2 separate regions of the Homo sapiens genome follow, and region 2 is linked to region 1. The links come from fine-mapping of genetic effects on gene expression. Tissue or cell type: whole blood. Region 1 holds a variant in brackets; the other region holds the start of a gene. All regions are shown on one strand. Distances are from middle to middle. Region 1 overlaps NCF2 (neutrophil cytosolic factor 2). Region 2 holds the start of NCF2 (neutrophil cytosolic factor 2).

The links. PIP is the estimated chance that this variant, and not a neighbour inherited with it, causes the effect.
Region 2: NCF2 starts here. The variant in region 1 is the best candidate, but not a certain one, in a credible set for the expression of NCF2 in whole blood (INTERVAL, PIP 0.86).

The regions. Positions count from the first base shown.
Region 1 is chr1:183,558,103-183,569,332 of GRCh38, reverse strand. NCF2 (neutrophil cytosolic factor 2) reads left to right here. Exons shown (of 15, transcript NM_000433.4): 7 at 148-191; 8 at 1,988-2,129; 9 at 2,345-2,413; 10 at 3,554-3,629; 11 at 5,303-5,328; 12 at 5,748-5,899; 13 at 6,027-6,138; 14 at 9,060-9,237. Among named protein-coding and RNA genes, the nearest start is that of NCF2, 27 kb to the left of the region's middle. RefSeq lists an enhancer at 1,531-1,590. The variant C/A (reference allele first, on the strand shown) is at 5,888.
Region 2 is chr1:183,585,392-183,596,621 of GRCh38, reverse strand. NCF2 (neutrophil cytosolic factor 2) reads left to right here and starts at 6,163. Exons shown (of 15, transcript NM_000433.4): 1 at 6,163-6,466; 2 at 9,645-9,727. The coding sequence starts at 6,293. It also overlaps the pseudogene C18orf32P1. RefSeq lists enhancers at 2,754-2,813, 5,434-5,773, 5,884-6,143.

The DNA.
Region 1 (11,230 bases):
TCCTAGACAGTGTTCTCATCAGTCAGAAATGCGTTATTTGATTTTCTGGTCTGGAAGAATGCTCAAATTACCATTAGCCGTTTGTTGTCTCTCCCCTGCTTTCCCTCATTGCCTTTTCCGTTTTCACTTCTCCTGAATGTTCAATAGGCAGCTGAGCCTCCACCCAGACCGAAAACCCCAGAGATCTTCAGGTAAGTTAGATTCAAATCCATAAATAGAATATCCAAGCGCCAAGCCTGAGCTGATGGCAAGAAAGGGAGGGAAGAAGATGAAGGTGGGGTCAGGGTCTAAATCTTGTTGAATTTTCTGGAATGTCAGGCTTCTTCTAGAATGTCAGGCTAGAAAGGAATGCCTAGAAGAATGTCTTCTAGAATGTCAGGCTAGAAAGGAATGATATGATGGGGATGGGAGTCTTGACTGTGGTGGGGCTGGCCATCAGGGCTTGGCTGCAGCTACGTGGTGTCCCATTGGCCCTCTGTCCACGTGCACAGCCACCCACATGGCAAGGGGTTGTTGCTGAGGGGCAGTGGTGTTCTGTGGAACATAGCTACCCTGGGGACCAGGATGCTGACCTCAGGTTGGAGATCGGTTTCGCACTGGCTGCAGTCCCCTCTGACGGGGGCAGGCCAGAGCTCTCTGGAGTCAGGAATCTAGAATGACGTCCTTTTTCCTGTGTGGATGTTTTCCACTCCCTATCGGCACATGCTTTCTGAAGAAGTAAAGAGGAAGGACTGAAGAAAAGGAAGTCCTTCTTCTGTAAGATGAAAAACAAAGGGTGACATAACCTACAGCTTTCTTAAGAATTCTCTCAAAGTGATGAAGCAAGCCTGGTCCTCCCACCCAAAAAGGAGGTTTTAAAAAGTGATTGGCCAGGTGTGTGGCTCATGCCTGAAATCACAGCACTTTGGGAGACTGAGGTGGGCGGATCACTTGAGATCAGGAGTTCGAGACCAGCCGGGCCAACGTGGCAAAACCCCATGTCTACTAAACATGAAAAAATTAGCTGAGTGTGGTGACTGACATGTGCCTGTAATACCAGCTACTTGGGAGGCTGAGGCAGGAGGCTCACTTGCACTCAGGAGGTGGAGGTTGCAGTGAACCAAGATCATGTCACTGCACTCCAGCCTGGGCAACAGACCAAGATTCCGTCTCAAAAAAAAAAAAGTGACAAAAGTACCAAAGCAACTACAAAAATGAGGGGGCTGGATGAGCTCATTCCTAAGCTCCCTGTCAGCTGGAAGGGCCTGTATTCCCTACAGGAGTAGGCACGATGTCTGGAAACAAGGATGGGCCGAGGGGAAAGTAACAGAGTGGGGAGTAAAGGGAGGGAAGCCTGAAACCTGAACACCAGCCTCTCAGTCACACGTTCCAAAGTGATGCCAATCAGAGCCTCAAAGCCTAAAAGCATGAAGTCAGACTTAAGGGAACCGACACTGCACCACGGCAGCTGGGCAGCCTCAGAGCCCTCTATGTGCATCCCTCACGCTCCCTGTCACCTACCCTGCTCACGGTCTCTCTATCCTGGCCCAACACTGGTTCTAGGTGGTTTCTCCTTCCTCCTCTCCCACCAATCTTTCTGGCCCAGCTGGCTCTCACCTGACTTCTGCTTTGTGCTGTTCCCCTGACCACAGTCACCTGATCCACCCCACCCCAGCCCAGCCTTGGGTGCTGGCCAAGATGACACAGCCAGGGACCTTCCTCCTCAGAGCAGAAGGGAGGGCAAGGATTGTAAGTCCTCACTATCTAGTGTTGTGGGGTTTTTGCTTTATTCTTGCCCCTCTGCATATATGGTTATGAGCAGGTGTACACCAGTTTCTTGCTGAGACCTCTTGGGAGCCCAGGCAGGCTCAGTGTCATCTCGGCAGTTGCAGTTAGATGTGGAGTTAGAGCCAGGCTGGAGCCAAGTCCCTGGCTCCAAGTTCAGTGTATTTGCGCCATGGCATCATGTGAGGGGATGGGGGCTGGATCTTGTGTCTATCCTCTGCAGGGCTCTGGAAGGGGAGGCTCACCGTGTGCTATTTGGGTTTGTGCCTGAGACAAAAGAAGAGCTCCAGGTCATGCCAGGGAACATTGTCTTTGTCTTGAAGAAGGGCAATGATAACTGGGCCACGGTCATGTTCAACGGGCAGGTATGCAGAGGATCAGGGGCTGGTGCGATGGGCATGGGATCCTGGCAGCAAATGCAGTCTCTGTGGAGCAGTATCTGCTGCCTTCTTTGCAGACCAGCCAAGTTCTTTTGTCTGTTCGTCATCCCTTCCCCAGGACTCTGGGCTGTTCTGTGGTGTGGGTACTGATGAGCACATCTTTATTTTTTCCTTTCTGATTCTGTGGTGCTGCACTGCAGAAGGGGCTTGTTCCCTGCAACTACCTTGAACCAGTTGAGCTGCGGATCCACCCTCAGCAGCAGCCCCAGGTAATGTGATGCCAAGGCCTGACCCATTTCCTCTCACCCTTTAGGGATCTCTCCCTGGAGGGGAGAAAAGCAGTGTAAAAGAGGTGTTGTCAGGACCCCTGGAGAAAGATTCACTAGTCTTGAGCCCGCCTTGAGATGGCACCAGCTACCCAGAGCTGAACCTGGGAATGAGGGGAAAAAAGCCCAGATGTGCTAAGTTGGAGGCATCTGTAGGTCCCATTGGGCCCACCCACCTCTGTGACTCTTCCTGGTCAGAAGTCACTTGGGAAGCAAAGCCTACAGTATATGAGTGGGTTAGGTCTTCCCAAGTGTGTCTGCTTCACGTGGAAGAGTAGTCAATGTGTTGGCTGGTACAATGCCATTAGAAAGAAAATGAGGCCAGCTGCAGTTGCTCATGGCTGTAATCCTAGCACTTTGGAAGGCTGAGGTGAGAGGATCACTTGAACTCAGGAGTTCGAGACCAGCCTGGGCAAAATAGAGAGATGCCACCTCTATACAAATAAAAATAATAAAATGAGATCTGCCTTAGAGCTTTGAATCAGAGTGGGCCTTGCCAGCCACTGCTTCTAAACTGCTGCTACTCCCTCCCTCACACTTCAAAAGTCTGTCCTTCTGCCAGGCCTAGAGAGCTGTCTTTGTCAGATCTGAGCATCCCTGTAAGTGACTCAATGGCAGTGGAGACTGTCTGTCTCTAGACTGTGCAACCAGTTGTATATGAGCTCAGCCCTCCCTGGTCAGTCACCATATCCAAATGCTTTGAAAAGCTTCAAATGCCTTGCAAATGAGAAGTGGAATTTTTCCTTTCTCAATGCCCTCTGCAGTGGAGACAAGAGCTCAGTCCTGCCCCACGGCCAGTGGATTTCCAATATGGCTGAAAGAGTTGCTAAAGCGGCAAGGGCGTTTTAGCGGGTTAGGATTCTTCTTTCTACTGTGATTTTCATTTTCATCAGGCCAACTCCACCTCCTCTTTTGGCCAACATTTCCTTCGTCTTCCCCAAATGTCACTACCATTCCAACTTTTAGGACGTTATCTGCATGTGGCTCCTTTACATGGGGTCTCTGTAGGGGTGTTTCCCCACATCCACCCCTGCCTGGGAACTTTGAATGAAGGTTCTGACCGTCGCTCCCTGTTGCCTTCAGGAGGAAAGCTCTCCGCAGTCCGACATCCCAGCTCCTCCTAGTTCCAAAGCCCCTGGAAGACCCCAGCTGTCACCAGGTGAGTGGTCCTGGAGCCACAGCCTAGGTCTGGGTGCAGCAGCATGCCAGGCTGCTTCCTGAGTTCCTCTCCCTGCCTTCCAGGAAATTCTGGTTTCTTCTTCTCCCAACATGTCACTCAGCTAATGACCACGCAGCCCCAGAATCCCCCTTTCCTGCACCACCCACCCCAAACATGAAATCAGTGCCCTCTCTCCCTGCCTTCTGCAGAACACTCACGGGGCTTGGGTGAATGCAGCTGGTTCCTGAGTGACTCACGTAGTCACCAAACCCCTTGATCATTAGGTAGGGAAACGATGTCTCAGGAAGAAAAGTTGAAGTAACTATACCTGCTTATCTCTGAGGGGCATGGAGTGGCTGTTTTCAAATGTCTGAGGCACTGTATCTGGAAAAGAAATTGCTCTGTGGAGCCCTGAGGATGAACAAAGAACCAATGGGCAGATGTGAAATGGAAATGTTCTCTCTGAAAGGCTGTTTCCTAGTGTGGAGAGGGCTGTCTTGGGAAGTGCACTTGAAGCAGATTCTGGATAAGCGCTTGGTAGAGACGCAGAGTGAGTGGTTGGCCAGATTCTAGATCAATGATTGCCACACGCGCCTGATCATCAGAATCACTCGGGATGTCCCTTCCCCCATTTTTATTTTGAAAAATGTCCAACCTACAGAAAAGCTGACAGTAGAATACAATAAACATCAGAATATCTTTCACTTAAACTCACCAATTGTTAACATTTTGCACCATGAACTCGCCCTGCTCCATTCTATTTTTCTCCCCCGAGCCAGTTGAAAAGTTACAGACTCGTGACACTTCACCCTACACAGCTGCAAAAACGCAGTCTCCTGCATAATCACAATAGAATCATGGTATCTAGGACACTAAACATTCATATGATAGTATTATATAATGTATATTCCATATTCAAATTTCTCCCGTTGCTCCTGCTCAATGTCCTTGACAGGTTTTTTGTTGTTATCTTTTGTCTAGAGGCTCATCAAGGATCACATATAAACCTAGGATGATTTTGTGAATACAGAGTCCTAGGCTACTGGCTCTGATATTTTAGGACTGGAATGGGGCTCGGGAATTTGTATTTTAGAAAAAAACTTCCCATGTGATTCTAATGATCAGCTAGGTTTGAGATCAGTGGCCTTCTCTGATCATGTACCCCCTATAGTAAATATCTTTATGCATGCTACTCTTACATAAATTAGATTAATATTAGATTGCTTGATTAATAGATTAGATTAAATTAATAAACTTTAGGAAACATACACAAAAATAAAGAATAAGGTGAGGATCAGTGGTTCTAATACTTCTTCCTGTGGCCTCTGGCTCACCTTGCACTCCGATTTTCATTGCTTTGGATCCCGTGGGCTTAATTGACCTTTGGGATCCCTGCTAACCTTGTGGGTTGGTGAGGATATGCTGGTCCTTTGGTAATTACCTATAGGCTCCCTAGAAGCAGAGACTGAGTTTGTTCATGTGTTCATGACCTTCATGCTTCCCCAGGGCGAGATTTTCCCCACAGTTTACTAAGGTTAATAATTGCCCCACAAATTAAAGGGTAAGAGGTTGGGGGCCCTATTTGAAGAGGTTTCATCTGTGTGTGGCAGGGGCTGGCCAAGGATGTTCATTCACCATCTTCTTTTGTTTTACTCCCTACTTTTTCCATTCAGGCCAGAAACAAAAAGAAGAGCCTAAGGTAACATTTTTCCCTCATACTGTTTCAAGTGGTAGAAGATGGGATAGCTTGGGCTATCAACCACAGACATGTCTGTCTGGATTATAGGAAGAGCCCCAAAGGGAGGGTCGAACCAGTTGCTACCTTACAGAGTCCATGAGCTAGGGACCTTCTTAATAGCCTCCTCCACTATCATGCACACACTTCCTACTACCCAAGCTAGTGGGCCAGATCTTACTCAGTAGGAATTCCTGTCCAAGCAAGGGTTGGGCTAAAGGACCTCTGAAGGCCTTTTAGGCTACTGTGAAACCAGTTACTTACTGGCCTCTCCCCTGCTGTATTGGGTACCCCCTGTGCCAAATCACGAAACTGCGGTGATCCAGGATGTTGAGAGAAAGCCTCAGACACTCAGGAGTTCCCTTTGTTTCCTCCCCACTCAGGAAGTGAAGCTCAGTGTTCCCATGCCCTACACACTCAAGGTGCACTACAAGTACACGGTAGTCATGAAGACTCAGCCCGGGCTCCCCTACAGCCAGGTCCGGGACATGGTGTCTAAGAAACTGGAGCTCCGGCTGGAACA[C/A]ACTAAGCTGAGGTGAGCTCCATGCAGGCAGCTGTGAGGGGTACAGTGGGAACCTTGTGCTGGCCTGGAGGAGGGAAGAGGAGGATGGTTTTTGTGATGATGTTCTTTGACTGGATTCTTACTCATTATCCCCACCCAGCTATCGGCCTCGGGACAGCAATGAGCTGGTGCCCCTTTCAGAAGACAGCATGAAGGATGCCTGGGGCCAGGTGAAAAACTACTGCCTGACTCTGTGGTGTGAGAACACAGTGGTGAGTGCAATGAGGGGCATCTAAAGTTACATTTCCACTGAGCCACTTCCTCAACAATTTGAAATTTATCAAGCACCTTCTGTGTACTAGGCACTATATGTGGTGTTGGGGATATGGTGTGTAATAAGTCACAGCTCTGCCTCCCTTTTACCTGCATCCTCACCCCATTTGCAGCAGGGAGAGAGTTTCCCACAAGAGAACAGCAGGCCCAGCAGGGCAGGAGCTCACAGAAAGCCTCCTGCCCCTCCATCAGCTCCCTGCCTGACTGTGTCAAACATCCCATCCATTACTGTCAAGCAAGGTTGGAATGAAGTCATATCATAGCTTAAGGCTCAGCTCATAGCCATTCTTCACCTTTTTTTTTTTTTTTTGAGATGGAGTCTCACTCTGTCGCCCAAGCTGGGTGTGATCTTGGCTCACTGAAACCTCTGCCGCCCAGGTTCAAGAAATTCTCCTGCCTCAGCCTCCTGAGTAGCTGGGATTACAGGCACCTGCCACTGCACCCAGCTAATTTTTGTATTTTTAGTAGAGACGGGGTTTCACCATCTTGGCCAGGCTGGTTTTGAACTCCTGACCTTGTGATCCACCTGCCTCGGCCTCCCAAAGTGCTGGGATTACAGACATGAGCTGGGAGAAGAAGAGTGAAAGAGAATGAGCCTAGAAAAGGGCAGTGTATAAAGCTGTTTAAGGTATCTTCCCCGTTCAGAAAATTGCCTTCAGGAAATACAGCCACTGGGGATGAGACTCCCTGGTGTCTCTGGCTGAGACAAAAGGCCCCAGGATCCTGGGGGTAAGAGTGAGTGTGAGTGTAAGGGGTCTCTTGGAAGTCTGAAAAGTCACTCTAGGTTTTCCAGCTGTCTGTCTTTGGACTAACCCCTTCAGCATCTTTTTTAAAAGATTCTTCCTAGAAGGAGTTCTGCTCTAAATGTGAACTACTTCACTTAAACTTTTTTTTAATTAAAATTTTTTCCTTTGACAGCAGCTTCAATCTATTTGGTGGCTGCACATAGCCAACCCTCTTACAACTCCCCACAATCTTTTGCAATTTAATCCAGGCTCAGGAGTCACTGTTGAATGTTCTTTATCACTATCCATTACTTTTGGAGGCAACAAAGCAGGCTTTCACTTACTAGGAGAAAGAAAACCAGGCGCAGTGGCTCATGCCTGTAATTCCAACACTTTGGGAGGCTGAGGCAACATGGTGAAACCCCATCTCTACTGAAAATACAAAAATTAGCTGGGTGTGGTGGTGTGCACCTGTAGTCCCAGCTACTTGGGAGGCTGAGGCAGAATTGCTTGAACCCAGGAGGCGGAGGTTACAGTGAGCTGATATCATACCACTGCACTCCAGTCTGGGTGACAGAGAGATTCTGCCTCAAAAAAAAAAAAAAAAAAAAAAAAAAAAAAAAAAAAAAGAGGCCTGGTATGGTTTATGCCTGAAATCCTAGCACTTTGGGAGGCCGAGATGGGCCAGATCACCTGAGGTCAGGAGTTTAAGACCAGCCTGGCCAACATGGTGAAACCCCATCTGTACTAAAAATACAAAAAAAAAAGAAAAGAAAAGAAAGAAAAATAAAATGAACTAACATTTATTAAGCATCTACTCTATGCAGGAACACTTACCATTAACCAAGTCTAAATATTTATACATATTTAGAAGAGTACTGCCACAGAGTAAGTGTTCAATAAATGTCAACTACTATTATTGTATGTCATCTCATTGAATTCTTCTAGCCTCAATTTCAGGTGAGGTAACTGAGGTTCTGAGAAGTTACACTGCTTGCTTAGGGACACAGAGCTGGTAAGCAGTGGAGGTGGGATACAAACCTTTCTCTGTGGACTCTCTAGGGCCATTTCCACCTCATTGTATTGCCTCTCAATAAAAATATACCAACGTTCAACAAACAACATTAAGAAGCTAGAACTTATAATGCTCGGTACATACAAGCCTAGCAGCATTTCTAATGTTGATTTGTTAAATTCTATGATTCACATCTGTAGAAACCGCATCCTTCTCCTTCATTTGTGAAGCAAAAGTGACAATAATGTGGAAGAAGTCTAAGATCATAAGTCTAAGATGTATAAGAAATGTTGTTACAGATAAAACAAGTATGGCATTGTGCAGTGGTTTTTGAACTTTAGCAAGTATCAGAATTCCCTAGAGGACTTAAAATACAGATTGCAGGATTCACCTTCAGGGAGTTTCTGATTTAGTAGTTTTGGGATGGAGTTGAAAGTCTGCATTTCTAACAAGGTCCCTAGTGTTGCTGTTAGAGTTGATGCTAAGAAAGCCAGTTTTGACTTAGGGCTCTGTCCCCATCTGTAAAGAAATAATAATGCCCATTCTACCTGTCTCAAGATTATTGTAAGGTTTCAGTAAGATATTTTAAGACTGTATATGATTTTGCAGACCTTTTGGTTTCATTTATCCCAGGGGTCCCCAACCTCCAGGCCACGGGCCAGCACAGGGCTGCACAGCAGGTGAGCTGCAGGTATACTGGCCTGAGCTCTGCCTCCTGTCAGATCAGCAGCAGCATTAGATTCTCATAGGAGTGTGAACCCTATTGTGAACTGTGCATGCAAGGGATCTAGGTCGCATGCTCTTTATGAGAATCTAATGCCTGACGATCTGAGGTGGAACAATTTTATCCTGAAACCACCCCCCAACCCACCACCCACCACCATTCATCTAAAAACTGTCTTCCATGAAACTGGTCCCTCGTGCCAAAAAGGTTGGGGACTGATTTACCCAACCATCCAGTATTCATAAAGAGCATATAAGCTCTACACAAGGCACTGATCACAAACTTTATGAGTTTATATCCCAGGTTCTACTTTGACATTTCGCTGTTTCCTTTAGTGATGTTCAGTGTTCACTTGGCAGGAAATTGGGAAAATTAACAGGCCCTTTATTATTTCAGGGTGACCAAGGCTTTCCAGATGAACCCAAGGAAAGTGAAAAAGCTGATGCTAATAACCAGACAACAGAACCTCAGCTTAAGAAAGGCAGCCAAGTGGAGGCACTCTTCAGTTATGAGGCTACCCAACCAGAGGACCTGGAGTTTCAGGAAGGGGATATAATCCTGGTGTTATCAAAGGGTAAGTGCTACTCCAAGACTATAGAAACAAATTTACATGTTAGCAGAAACAAGGTCAAGGGCAGAGAGAAGAAAATATCAATAATCTACAAACAAAACTTTAGCCAGTGTTTTCAACCCCCTTCCTAGCATCTAGCTGGAGGGAGCAAAGTTGAGCACTCAGACTTTCCCTGTCTATTGCTCTAGTAGCCAGGAAAGCAACAAGAAGCTGAGTTGTTTTGTTTTTGTTTTTGTTTTTGAGACAGAGTCCCCCTCTGTTGCCCAGGCTGGAGTGCAGTGGCACAATCTCGGCTCACTGCAACCTCCCCCTCCTGGGTTCAAGCAATTCTCCTGCCTCAGCCTCCTGAGTAGCTAGGATTACAGGCGCCCACCACCATGCCTAGCTAATTTTTGTGTATTTAGTAGAGATGGGGTTTTGCCATGTTGACCAGGCTGGTCTCAAACTCCTGGCCTCAAGTGATCCAACTGCCTCGGCCTCCTAAAGTACTGAGATTACAGGCATGAGCCACCGCACCTGGCCGGCGATAAACATCTTGATTATTAAAGAGGAGTATGCTTTGGAAACCATGGATTCTCATTCCCAGAGGTAACAAATTGGGCTGGAATCACTTTGCCTTTGCATCAAGCTGTATGACCTTCTGCAAACCATAGTTCTTTGAATTAATGTACTTTTCAAAGAGAAAAGTAGGTAAATTTTGCCTTAAAAACCAGCTATTCAGAACTATCCTGTGTCTCTGGTGACTTTCTTGATTCTGTTTGTAATGAACAGACTAAAAATTGAAACAGCATGCCTGTAATCCTAGCCACTAGGGAGGCTGAGGTAGGAGGATCACTTGAGGCCAGGAGTTCAAGGCTGTTGCCTGGGCAACACAGCAAGACCCACCTCTTAAAAGTGGAGAGTTCTAAGAATCCCTGGAAGAGTTTGTTAAATCAATTCCTGGGCCCACCCTCCAGAGATTCTGATTCAGGTCTGGGGTGGGGCCCACCAACTTGCATTTCTACCAAGTTTCCAGGTGATGCTGGTCTACTGCCTACACTCTTAAGAAGCACCATTCCAACTCGTGGTTTGCCAGCCTAATTCTCTACCTCGACACAAAAAAGTCCCATCATAAAAGCCCTGCTCATACGCTGAGTCTGTGCACTACCAATGCAAAGCAGTGAAAAACTACCATCAATTATAACAGAAAATCCAACAGACAAAGAGAGGGGGAAATTTTAAAGTTAATGAGGGTAGGCTGGGCCTGGTGGCTCACACCTGTAATCCCAGCACTTTGGGAGGCTGAGGTGGTGGATCACTTGAGGCCAGGAGTTGAAGACCAACCTGGCCAACATGGTGAAACCCCATCTCTACTAAAAATGTAAAAATTAGCTGGGCGTGGTGATGCACATCTGTAGTCCCAGCTGCTAGGGAGGCTGAGGCAAGAGAATCGCTTGAACCCGGGAGTGGAGGTTGCAGTGAGCCGAGATTGCACCACTGCCCTCCAGCCTGGGTGACAGAGCGAGACTCTGTCTTAAAAAAAATAAAAATAGGCCGGGTGCAGTGGATTATGCCTGTAATCCCAGCACCTTGGGAGGTCAATGTGGGCTGACTGCTTGAGGTCAGGAGTTCAAGACCAGCCTGGCCAACATGGTGAAACTCTGTCTCTGCTACAAATACAAAAATTAGCCGGGTATAGTGGTAGGTGCTTGTAATCCCAGCTATTCAGGAGGCTGAGGCAGGACAATCTCTTGAACCCAGGAGGAGGAGGTTGCAGTGAGCTGAGATTGTGCCACTGCACTCCAGCCTGGGTTACAGAGTGAGACTCAGTCTCAAAAAAAAAACAAAAACAAAAACAAAAAAATTAAAATTAAAAAAAAAGTTAATGGGGGTAGAGAGAGTATACAACAAGTGTGTAGCAATTAATTAAAAATATGAGTAGTATAGGCTGGGCGTGGTGGCTCATGCTGGTAACCCCAGCACTTTGGGAGGCCAAGGTGAGTGGATCACTTGGGGT
Region 2 (11,230 bases), 27 kb before region 1:
AGTACTATTTTTAGTAGAGACAGGGTTTCACCATGTTGGTCAGGCTGGTCTCCAACTCCTCACCTCGTGATCCGCCCACCTTGGCCTCTCAAAGTGCTGGGATTATAGGTGTGAGCCACTGTGCCTGGCCCAAAGGACAATTTATAGTGAGGATCCAGTGTATTTACTTGCTTCATTCAGGATTCAGATCTTTAATCTCTATGCATTCATTCATTTATTCATCAAACTTTTACTGAGTGACCACCTATGCAGGTACTAGACATTGTGTGTGTAAAGGGTACAAATATGAAAAAGAGTGCTTAATATGAGGTGTCTTTAAATGAATAGGCATTATACATTCCCTCATTTTCATCTAGGATGCTAGGACACATATATTTAGCCAAGCAAATTAAGTAATCACACTGACTTTAAAAGCACCTTCCATGGCATCGCTATTTAACAGATATGTTAAAAATCCACCATATCATGGGCACAAAAGATACAGTGGAAAAATCAGACACAGATCTTGTATTTTCGGGGCTTACAGTCTAGTTGAGAGACAGTCGTTTAAACAAGTAATTACAATCACATGTGCTTGAACACACATTAGGAGAGGTAGAGAGAAACCTCCTTGAGTGCACATGGCAGGAATAATTAATCTCACTGGTAAGTCAGGGAAGAAGACTGGAGCTGCTGAGGTGTGGCAGGTGGAATTCTAAGATGATCCCTGATGATCCTTGCCTTTGTGTAATCCCCTCCCCTTGAGTGGGAGAGACCTGTAACTTGCTTTTAATCAATAGAACATGGCAAAGGTGAAGGGATTTTTGCAGAGATGATTAACATCCCTAAGCAGTTGGCTTTAAATTAATCAAAAGGGAGAATATTCTGGGTGGGCCTGGCCTAATCAGGTGACTCCTTTAAGAGAAGGTCTAGAGGTAAGAGACTTAATGAAGCAGAGATTCTCTCTGCCTCCATTGCTGGCCTTGAAGAAGGAAGCTTTCATGAATTCTATAGCTACAGATGAATTCCACCAACAAACCAAGGGAGCTTGGCAGCAGATGCCGTCAAGTCTCCAGATGAGAAAGCAGCCTAGATAACACCTCGATCTCAGCCTTGTGAGACCCTGAGCACAGGGCCCAACTAAGCCGTGCCCAGACTCCTGACCCATGAAAACTGTGACATAGTACATGTGTGTTATTTTAAGCCATTAAGTTTGTGGTAATTTGTCATGCAGCAACGGAAAACCAACCCAACGACAGATTAGACAGGACTAACTTGCCTTCCTGGAGAAAGACGATTTCAAGCCCTGAGGCTTTCAATAGCATTGCTGAACAACAGGACCCCTGTTGACTTTTCTGTATCCTTCATGTGAGATCCAGGCCAAGTTTATATCTAATAAATGAGGTCTCCTCCCTGCCTCCTTCAGGGTTTCCTGTCTTGTACTCAATGAAACTATCTACTCAATGTTAGAGTTGACGGCAAAAAAGTGCGTTCTTTTCCCTACTAGTCTAAATGTACCTCACTTTATGCAACTAACATGATACTGACAAACTTTACAAAATTATATTTTTCCAAGTAGGATTCAGTTTTCTCATTTTTCAGTTCATTTAATTAATTAGCCAATGATCACGGAGCAGCTACTACGTGCTAAACATGGCGAAAGACTGAAGGACAGTGGAGAGTTGGCTCTATCCTTTGAGGAGCTTAAGAAAGAAGTCTCATGTACCAGAAAAAGTTAAAGAGCGATAGAACACTAAAATCTAAATGTAGGAATGAAAAAGTATTTCCTGAGTGCCCAGGAATAATGAGTTTTATTTTGATTTTACAGGCTTCTTCCTCAGAAAAAAAAAGGAGGGTCTTGGGAGTGTTCTTGGCTTCCAGCTGAATAAATACATGCAACAGTAGTTTGTAGTGTTAACCAATCATATGCAAATCTTGCTTATTTGGAATTTTGGAATAATTTTGAAAATATCGAGATGAAACTGAGTTACCCAACCAATGCCTCAACAAATTTTATTTAACAAGTAATGTTTATTGAACACCTGCTATATGCCAAGCCCTGTACTAGGTACCGAGAATCCAGTGGTGTGTGTGTCAGAACATTTTAAACCATAACTAATAGAAAACTTGATATGAATGACTTAAACAATAAACAAACTTATTATCTAACCAAACAAGAAATTCCAAGGTAGATCAGTTTCAGACTTGTAGAAAACGTTATTTTTATCTTTTAAGAGATGGAGTCTTGCTCAGTCACCTAGGCTGGAATGCAGTGGCGTGATCATCACTCACTGCAGCCTTTGAAGTCCTGAGCTCAAATGATCCTCCCACCTTAGCCTCCTGAGAAGCTGGGGCTACAGGCATGTGCCACCATGCCTGGCTAATTTTTAGTGTTTTTCTGTAGAGATGGGGTCTGGCTTCATTGCCCAGGCTGGTCTCTAACTCCTGACCTCAAGGGATCTTCCCACCTAAGTGTTGGGATTACAGATGTGAGCCATTGTGCCCAGCCAGATTTGCAGAAAACAGATAATGCAACACATCTCATCAGCATAACTAAGCATCTGAGCTCTTTGTAATTTTCCATTCTCTTTTCTTTCAGACAATGGCTTGTTCTTAGTTGTCTCCCCTCATGATTATAAGACAGCTGCCATATTCCAGACACATCTCACAATGCTGTCTAGTAGAGAAACAAGTGCTGTTTCTTCTCATGTGTTTTATTTTTTATCACTGGGGAAGAAATCTTTCCCAGAAATTCTTAGCAGACTTTCCCTCCTGAAGCGCATGGCTTCAGGAAACTGGAGGCTTGAACAGAACTGGGGTTCTACCAAAAGGAGGAAGGCGAATGGACAGTGGCTGAACAGACCGTCTACTAACAGCACCAAGTAATGATTAAATAGACTGCCCCTGCATTGAGGGACAGAAACAATGTCACAGATGACATACAGTTACAAACTGTAACAAATACATGATCAGAGAGAACCGTGCACATAGCAAGGTCATGGATCTAGAAAGGCCACTCATTGAGGAAGTGAAAGATGAGTAGGAACTAGCCAGGCAGGCTTGGGGGAAGAGTGTTACATGGGCGGAGGAAGAGGCTGGCTCATATGAAACCATGAAAGGAGGCCTGTGTAGCTGGAGTTCTTGGGAGAGGAGGAGGGGAAATGACCTGGAATGAGCACAGGGCAGCAGGCAGGGGGCTTCCTGCAGCATGGGAAGGAGTTCGGGTTATATCCTGAGAGCAGTGCAAAGCCATGGAAGGTTTAAAAACAGGGGCCATGAAGTGATCTGACTTGTGTTTTTAAAAGCTCAATCTGGATGGAGAGGCAAAGAAATGTTAAAAGACTATCATGTTCACCTGGGAGTTGATAGTGGCTTGGCCTGAGTGGTGACAGGAGAAGGGGAGGGAAAGTGGATGAAATGGAGCATGAATGGCTTTGCTAGTGCCCTGGGGGATACAAACATGGGTTAGCCCAGGACTTCCTCCTGAGGCACACTATTTGAGGTGCTAAGACTTGCATGCACATACATTGGTGAAGAGTGATTAAGGGCCACATGGGAGGTGCGGAGAAGGAGATGCAGGAGTTCAGAAGGCGAGATCATGGGTTTGAGCGCTTTCAGGCAGGACTGATTTCAGGGCAGTGTGTTAAGGAGAGTGCTATTTTAGCAGGCCTTCGAAGGCTATGCAAGGTGGGTTTGAAGGTGCAGACATGGGAGAGGGCAGCCTAGAAAGAGGAACTAGCACGAGTCGCACAGATGCAGGAATGAAGGCATAGCGGGAGAAGAGTAAGCAGCAGAGTTTGTATGGGATTGTGAAGGAAAGTTCTGGGGATAAGGCTAGAAAAGTCTTGGCAGTCAGATTAAGGAGAGTTCTGAGTGTCAGGGTGGGATAATAGGAGGGCAAAAACATTTTTTAAAAATGAAGTCTAATTTAGCTACAAATCCATTTGGTTTTCTCAGGAATAATTAATGTGCTATTCAAGTCCTGATTATTTATTCACTAGATGGAATAGCAATACCTCTTTCTGCCATCACTGCTACCTGCAGGTCATTTACCAATGATTTCTAATTTCTTTTAGAATGTATCCCTTCATCATGTATTGAGTATCTGTGCTAGAGATCCTAGAATGAAAAGGCATGGTCCCAACTTCCAAGGAGCCCATGAATTGAGCAGATAAAGAGATAAATTGCAGTAAGTATGATGCAAGTTTTTGGGTAAAGGTGGTACAAAGGAGAGGAAAATTCTCCTACTACCCAGAGTTCAGGGCTAGATTTAGCACAGTTGGTGACATTTAAACTGGGCTTTGAAAGATGAGTAGGAGTTTGCCAGGCAAAGAAGAGAGCTGGGAAGGCCTTGTAAACACAGGAAAACAATCTGGACAAAGACACACATGTCTTCTTAATTCTCACACCTTCAATCCTACAAGCACTGTGGAGTATACATTTTTAAGTTTTATTTTCAGGCTTTTAGGGGAAGCTTGGTGATAATGAGTGAATTCTTTCAGTTGCTACAAAACAAGAGTTTGCATCTAAGTATTTGACCCCCATAAACATGCATTTTACCTAAAAAGAAGCCTGGATTTTAGCAAGCCAAATTGGCTATACCCTTTACCCCCAGTTATTCCTCTGGGAGGTTTTACTGATTTTTACTTTTCTGGAAAAGCAAGGAAAGAACTCTTAAATCTGTTTTTTCAGAGACTAGTAAATCCATTAGTCATCAGTGCAGGACTTTCATCTCTTCAATTTTTCACTGGAAGATGGGAGAAGTCATAATTCACTGTCATGTGGCTCCCAATTTTGACATTTGCAGGAAATTGGTCCCCTCTGAACTTCATGAATGTTCATAAAAGTTATTTCGGCTGGGCACGGTGGCTCACTCCTGTAATCCCAGCACTTTGAGGGGAGGCCGAGGAGGCCGAATCACCTGAGGTCAGGAGTTCGAGACCATCAGCCTGGCCAACATGGTGAAACCCCATCTCTACTAAAAATACAAAAATTAGCAGGGCGTGGTGGCAGGCTTCTGTAATCCCAGCTACTCAGGAGGCTGAGGCAGGAGAATTGCTTGAACCCAGGAGGCAGAGGTTGCAATGAGCTGAGATCGTGTCACTGCATTCCAGCCTGGGCAACAAGAGTGAAACTCCGTCTCAAAAAAAAAAAAAAAAAAGTTATTTCAGGCCCAGATCAGATGGATCTCCAAAGATTATCCTGTCTCAAAAATTTGTTAATGATAATTTCAGCTCAAGATAAACACTAACATATTAATACAGCCTATGGGATTACAAAAAAGTGAGCAAGGAATTCATTCAAGACTGGAAAGAATTATCCTCTCATCTGACACTCCCATTTAACAAGGGTGTGGAAATCAAGGCCCAGTGACACAGGATTTTTTCTCCATCACTTTGTAAGCCAGGAACCTCTGGCTGGTGACACCCTGCCCAGGCCTCAGTGGGCCACACTACCTGCTGCAGGAGATGGCCTGCCCACTCGGCCTGGGTGGGGAGTTTTATTGAGTGATGAAAACAGCTTTCAGTGGAGAGGGGATGCAGGGGTGGTTCCCCTACCCAAAGGCAGGAAAGTCCCCCCAGTGCGGGTGAGTCTGGGGCTTTTATGGGCTCAGAATAGGGGAGGGGCAGGACATAGGTAGTACTGGAAAAGGCAACATTCAATTGGTTAAAAGGCATTAGTCAGAAATAATTAATTGGGAAAGAGCAGACAAACAGGAACAGAAGTTCTCACTCTAGGTCACGGGTTTCATTTGGGACCAGTAGCCTAGTCTTTCAGCCTTCAGGCTGTTTTTGGCTTGAAGGTGGGGTTTCACCAGGGACCTGCCCCTATCTGCCTAGGCATTTGGCTGCCTCCTGTCATTATCACCAGGGAGGTGCCTCTACCTGCCAAGGTTACCCTGGCTCTAGAAGCAGAACTTTGGCCAGAAGCTGCCACAGAACAGGGGTGGGAGAGAGAAGAGGAGCTGGGTGACAGAGCAGAAGCATTTTGGGGAACTGATCCTTCAGGCAGCAGCTGATGTACTTCCTCTCTCCTCCACACTCCACCCCTACTCGCCCTCTCTCTCTCTGCTTCTTTCCTTTTCTCTCTCATGGTAGGGTTATGAGTCAGTTGCCAAAAGGTGGGGACATTTCCTGATGCATTTGCAACACTGAGAAGTTATCTTAAGGGAGGCTGGGCCCCATTCTACTCATCTGGCCCAGAAAGTGAACACCTTGGGGGCCACTAAGGCAGCCCTGCTAGGGGAGACGCTCCAACCTGTCTTCTCTCTGTCTCCTGGCAGCTCTCTTGGCCTCCTAGTTTCTACCTAATCATGTCCCTGGTGGAGGCCATCAGCCTCTGGAATGAAGGGGTGCTGGCAGCGGACAAGAAGGACTGGAAGGGAGCCCTGGATGCCTTCAGTGCCGTCCAGGACCCCCACTCCCGGATTTGCTTCAACATTGGCTGCATGTACACTATCCTGAAGAACATGACTGAAGCAGAGAAGGTGAGTGGAGGTGCCTCTTTCCGGGCCTCCTCTGTGCATTTGTTATTATGATTCTCAACCCCATTGCATTTCGGAAACCTAACCTCTGGGGAGATTGAAAAGAACAAAAGTTGCCCAAGCTCCACCCCTAGACAGCCTGATTTAACTGGTCTGGGAGGGGCCCCAGGCAGCCAGTTTTAAAAGCTCTCCAGGTGGAGAGCAGGTGAGGGGCAGCCAGGGTTGCCTCTTTCTCCATCTTCTAAATTAAAATCATTCTACAAGTGTCTTTAACACCTTTGTGAAGGCTGTCCTAGTCGTACTTTCTTCTACACAGAACTCCTTCTGGGCACAGAATCTCTATCTATCCCAGCGCTTTACACCTGATTATTGATTCTAAGGCACCTCTTTTGGCTTTCCAAGACTTTCATGTGTGTCGACTTTGCCTGCTCAAGAGATTTAAGGGAGGCACTTACAAAAAATAGCTTTTATCCCAAGTGACAATTCTGATCAATTATAAAGGAGACTCTTTTAAAGATGCTGAGGCTGGCAAGAGGAAATTGTACTGTGATTGACTAGTGATGTCTGCTGGGGGCATGGTGTGGGATGTCTCGCATCTTTTTCGTTATGTTTTCTCACTCAAATACCATAGTATGGAGTTAAGCATTCTCGATAATTATTTTTTTGATTGGTTGTGGTAAGGTGGAAAGGGTATGGAGTTTGGAAGGAGAAGATCTAGGATCGAATCCTAGCCTCTGTCTCTCTCTGGACTTTTAGTCTTAAGCAAGCTATGTAGCCTATGTAGACATCTGGCTTTCAGCTTCCTGAGTTTCTAAATATCATGAAAATTAAGTGAGATGCCAAACTATTAATGTCTCGTGGAACTTCACACCACTGTATAAGAGTTAGTTATTATTTTTACCGATTACTGCCAGTCTTTGCAAGGTGTGGCAGTGGTTGACTCCCCAGGTCCCTTAAAGAATCAGTCCCTTCCACACTCCAACAGTAGGTAAACAAGCCTCAGCCACACCCTCCTGACAGGAAGACAGAGAAGTGACTGAAATGTTCTCACATAGCTTGACAAGTCAATCTCAGGCTCTAAGGCAGAGCATGGCAGGACCCCCCACCTCTGGCTGGAGGAAGGACATGGCCCCACCTCCTCTCAGGGGCCTGCTGAGGGGCTGAGTGAACAGCACCACACATTCTGAGGGCTGATGGACACAAAGTGCACATTGTCCAGGAGAAGAGATTGGCAGCTAGTCTGGGCACAGCTATGCCAGCAGGGACTGTAGCCTCCTGCCTTGGCCTGGATATGGGATCCTTGGCAAGGTTGTGTGGGCCACCACTCACTTCTCAGCTCCCAGGCCTTCAGGCCCACATGTCTCTGTTTCTCCTGGCATTCCTCTGCTTCTAGCCTTCTCATTCCTTCTGCCTTTCTTTGTTTTCCTGCTTGAGCCCTTCCTACTAGCATTTATATGCATTCTTATTCATTATCATTTTAATTGTATACTATTCATGTATAAGTTTGTATAGTAAACAAATATAACAATTTATATAATATTTTAATTATTTTCATTTGCAATAAATTTTATTATTTATTTAAACTGAATGTTCAATACATTCATAGGAATACAAGAAATGCAACAAGGGTTAAAATTTCATTATTACATTAGATATCATTTTTTCTTTCTTTTTTTTTTTTTTTGAGATGGAGTCTCACTCTGTCACCCAGGCTGGAGTGCAGTGGTGCAATCTCGGCTCACTGCAACCTCTGCCTCCTGGGTTCAAGTGATTCTCCTGCCTCAGCCTCCCAAGTAGCTGGGATTACAGGCATGCACCACCAAGCCCGTCTAATGATGTTTCATTTTTCAAAGAAGCTTCTCCTATTTCCCTATCTTTTTTATCTTCCACAGAGCAATAAATAGTAATTACTACTCTCCTGGACAAGGTGCTCTGTTGTGTTGGATAGGAATTGTATCTTTAAGTTTGACATCATTATCACCTCCAAAAACTCTACCTTCACTTCATAGCACAGTCTCGCTGCATTGTTTCACAGTAAAATTGTACTCTACTCAAACTAGGAGAACTCAAAGAAATTAGAGCAAACAGCAGTTAAATTCATATGAATGAAAGACAGAAGACCAAAGATTTTAAAGTACTGATTTAGTAACATAGTGTCTACTGGCTCAAAGCTTCTATCTAATCATATTAAATCATATTATTAAAACAGCGATAATAGAAATGAAAGCTACACTAATGAAAAAGGAACTTGGGAATGAGGTCATTAAATATAACTAACTATATTTTAAATATAGATATGTATTTTTTATTAGTATCAGGTAAATGTCTAAATTATCTATTCTGAATTCTAGTCTCAGAGAAGGTCAGAGACAGTTACAAAGAAGGCGCTTCATATTGTCAAGTCCATTTTTAAAATGATGAGCTCCTTTGGGAAAATGCTTTAGTGTTTCTTTTCTTCTAAGATTTCTGTTGGTGATAATCCATTAGTGTCTGCACCCTTATAGTCCACTTTGTCTTTATTTGTATCATTGGATTTTTTTTTTTTTTTTTTTTTTTTTTTTTTGAGACAGGGTGCCTTACTTTGTTGCCCAGGCTGGAGTGCAGTGGTGCCGTCACAGCTCACGGCAGTCTCCACCTCCTGGGCTTGAGCGATTGACCTACCTCAGTCCCCCAAGTAGCTGGGACCACAGGCATGTGCCACCACATCTGACTAATTTTTAAATTTTTCGTAGAGATGGAGTCTCACTATTTTGCCCAGGTTGGTCTTGAACTCCTGGGCTCAAGTGATCCACCTGCCTTGGCCTCCCAAAGTGCTGGGATTACAGGTGTGAGCAACCGCACCTGGGAATTATTGGATTCTTGTGTAGCTTTTCTAGGCCATATATGACTAACAAAAGCAGAAATCAGATGGTATATGTATGGCTCCAGGAATGTTTTGTAGATCCACAGCAGAACTGGAATGACAATACAAGGAATGCACACCATTGTCCCAGACTTCAGCTTCTAAATGTGAGAGCGAAGTGGGGTGCACCGTGAGAGCACAGGGTGGGCCTCGAGGTGCCGACGAGGGCAGACAGCAGAGCTGGGCACCACAGGGAGCTAGGGCTCTGTGAGCCGTGGCTCATCTCACACCTCCTCACTGCCTTGCATCATGGCCATGTCTGGACCCTTCTCTCCTCAGGCCTTTACCAGAAGCATTAACCGAGACAAGCACTTGGCAGTGGCTTACTTCCAACGAGGGATGCTCTACTACCAGACAGAGAAGTAAGTGGTTCAATGTTGCACCAACTGGAGGATTTCAGAGAGAAACCCAAGGGGTCTCAGTGTTGCGGGCTTGGTGTTTGAGCAGTACCTTCCCAACCTCTGTTGGGAAATGTGACTGGCCCTTCTGGGGACAGTTATGCAATAAATCAGCAGGTGAGGCAGAAGCTCTCACTGGGGAGGCAAGGCAGGTCTGCCACCAGATTATAAATCAGCTGTGTCATAGGCACAATGAGCCTAGGTAACCACCATGGGCCTGATACTCAGCTGGTGTGACACCCCACCAGTGTCCCTGATGGGGTCACCCATGTAGGTCTCCTATGAGGTACTGAGCTGTCACAGAATGGGGATGATCATGAAACTGCATCAAAACCTGGCTTCATCCCAGCAAAATGCATTTCCAAAACCTGGTTTAATCCATTTGAGGAAATATACTTCAGCTGCAAAAATGATAATACAAATTAACATTATATGTATAAGAATAAATTACTACAGATAAGTAAGTAGCGTATGCACTTATACAGAAAAAGTTTGCAGTAGATGTTAATTTTTTTTCTTTTTCCGAGACAGAGTTTCACTCTTGTTGCCCAGGCTGGAGTGCAAGGGCTCGATCTCAGCTCACCGCAGCCTCCGCCTCCCAGGCTCAAGCGATTCTCCTGGCTTACCCTCCCGAGTAGCTGGGACTACAGGCATGCGCCACCACACCCAGCTAATTTTGTATTTTTAGTAGAGATGGGGTTTCTCCATGTTGGTCAGGCTGGTCTTGAACTCCCGACCTCAGGTGATCTGCCCACCTCAGCCCCCCAAAGTGCTGGGATTACAGGCATGTGCCACCACGCCCAGCCAGATGTTAAATTTAAAAACAGATTTCAAAACAGTTCATATAGCATAGTCCCATTTCTGTATCACAGAATAAAGTCTGGAAGGCCATAGATCAAAATGTTATCAATAATTCTCTCTGGATGGTGGGATTATAGGAAAATCCATTTTCTTCTATCACCCTGTCTGCATTTTTAGGTTTGTTTATAGTCAACATGGAATAATTAGTACAAAGATTAATAAATTCAAAATGAAAGTTAATCTCAATTCCTCCTCCCTCTCATCCTGCACAAATACCTCATAACAAATAACAAAGGAAAAAAATTCTAAGTGATAATTTCAAATGTTTTGGGGCATGGGAAACTGACCCTTTGTAGAAACTGTTCCACCAGTGTGCATCAGTTCTAGGGAAGAGGAATTTGGCTCAGGCTAATGAAGAATTTTTTTTTTTTTTGAGACGGAGTTTCGCCCTGTCACCCAGGCTGGAGTGCAGTGGCGCGATCTCGGCTCACTGCAACCTCTGCCTTCCACGTTCAAACAATTCTCTTGCCTCAGCCTCCCAAGTAGCTGGGATTACAGGTGCCCGCCACTACGTCCAGCTAATTTGTGTATTTTTCAGTAGAGACAGGGTTTCACCATGTTGGCCACGCTGGTCTCGAACTCCTGACCTTGTGATCCACCCGCCTC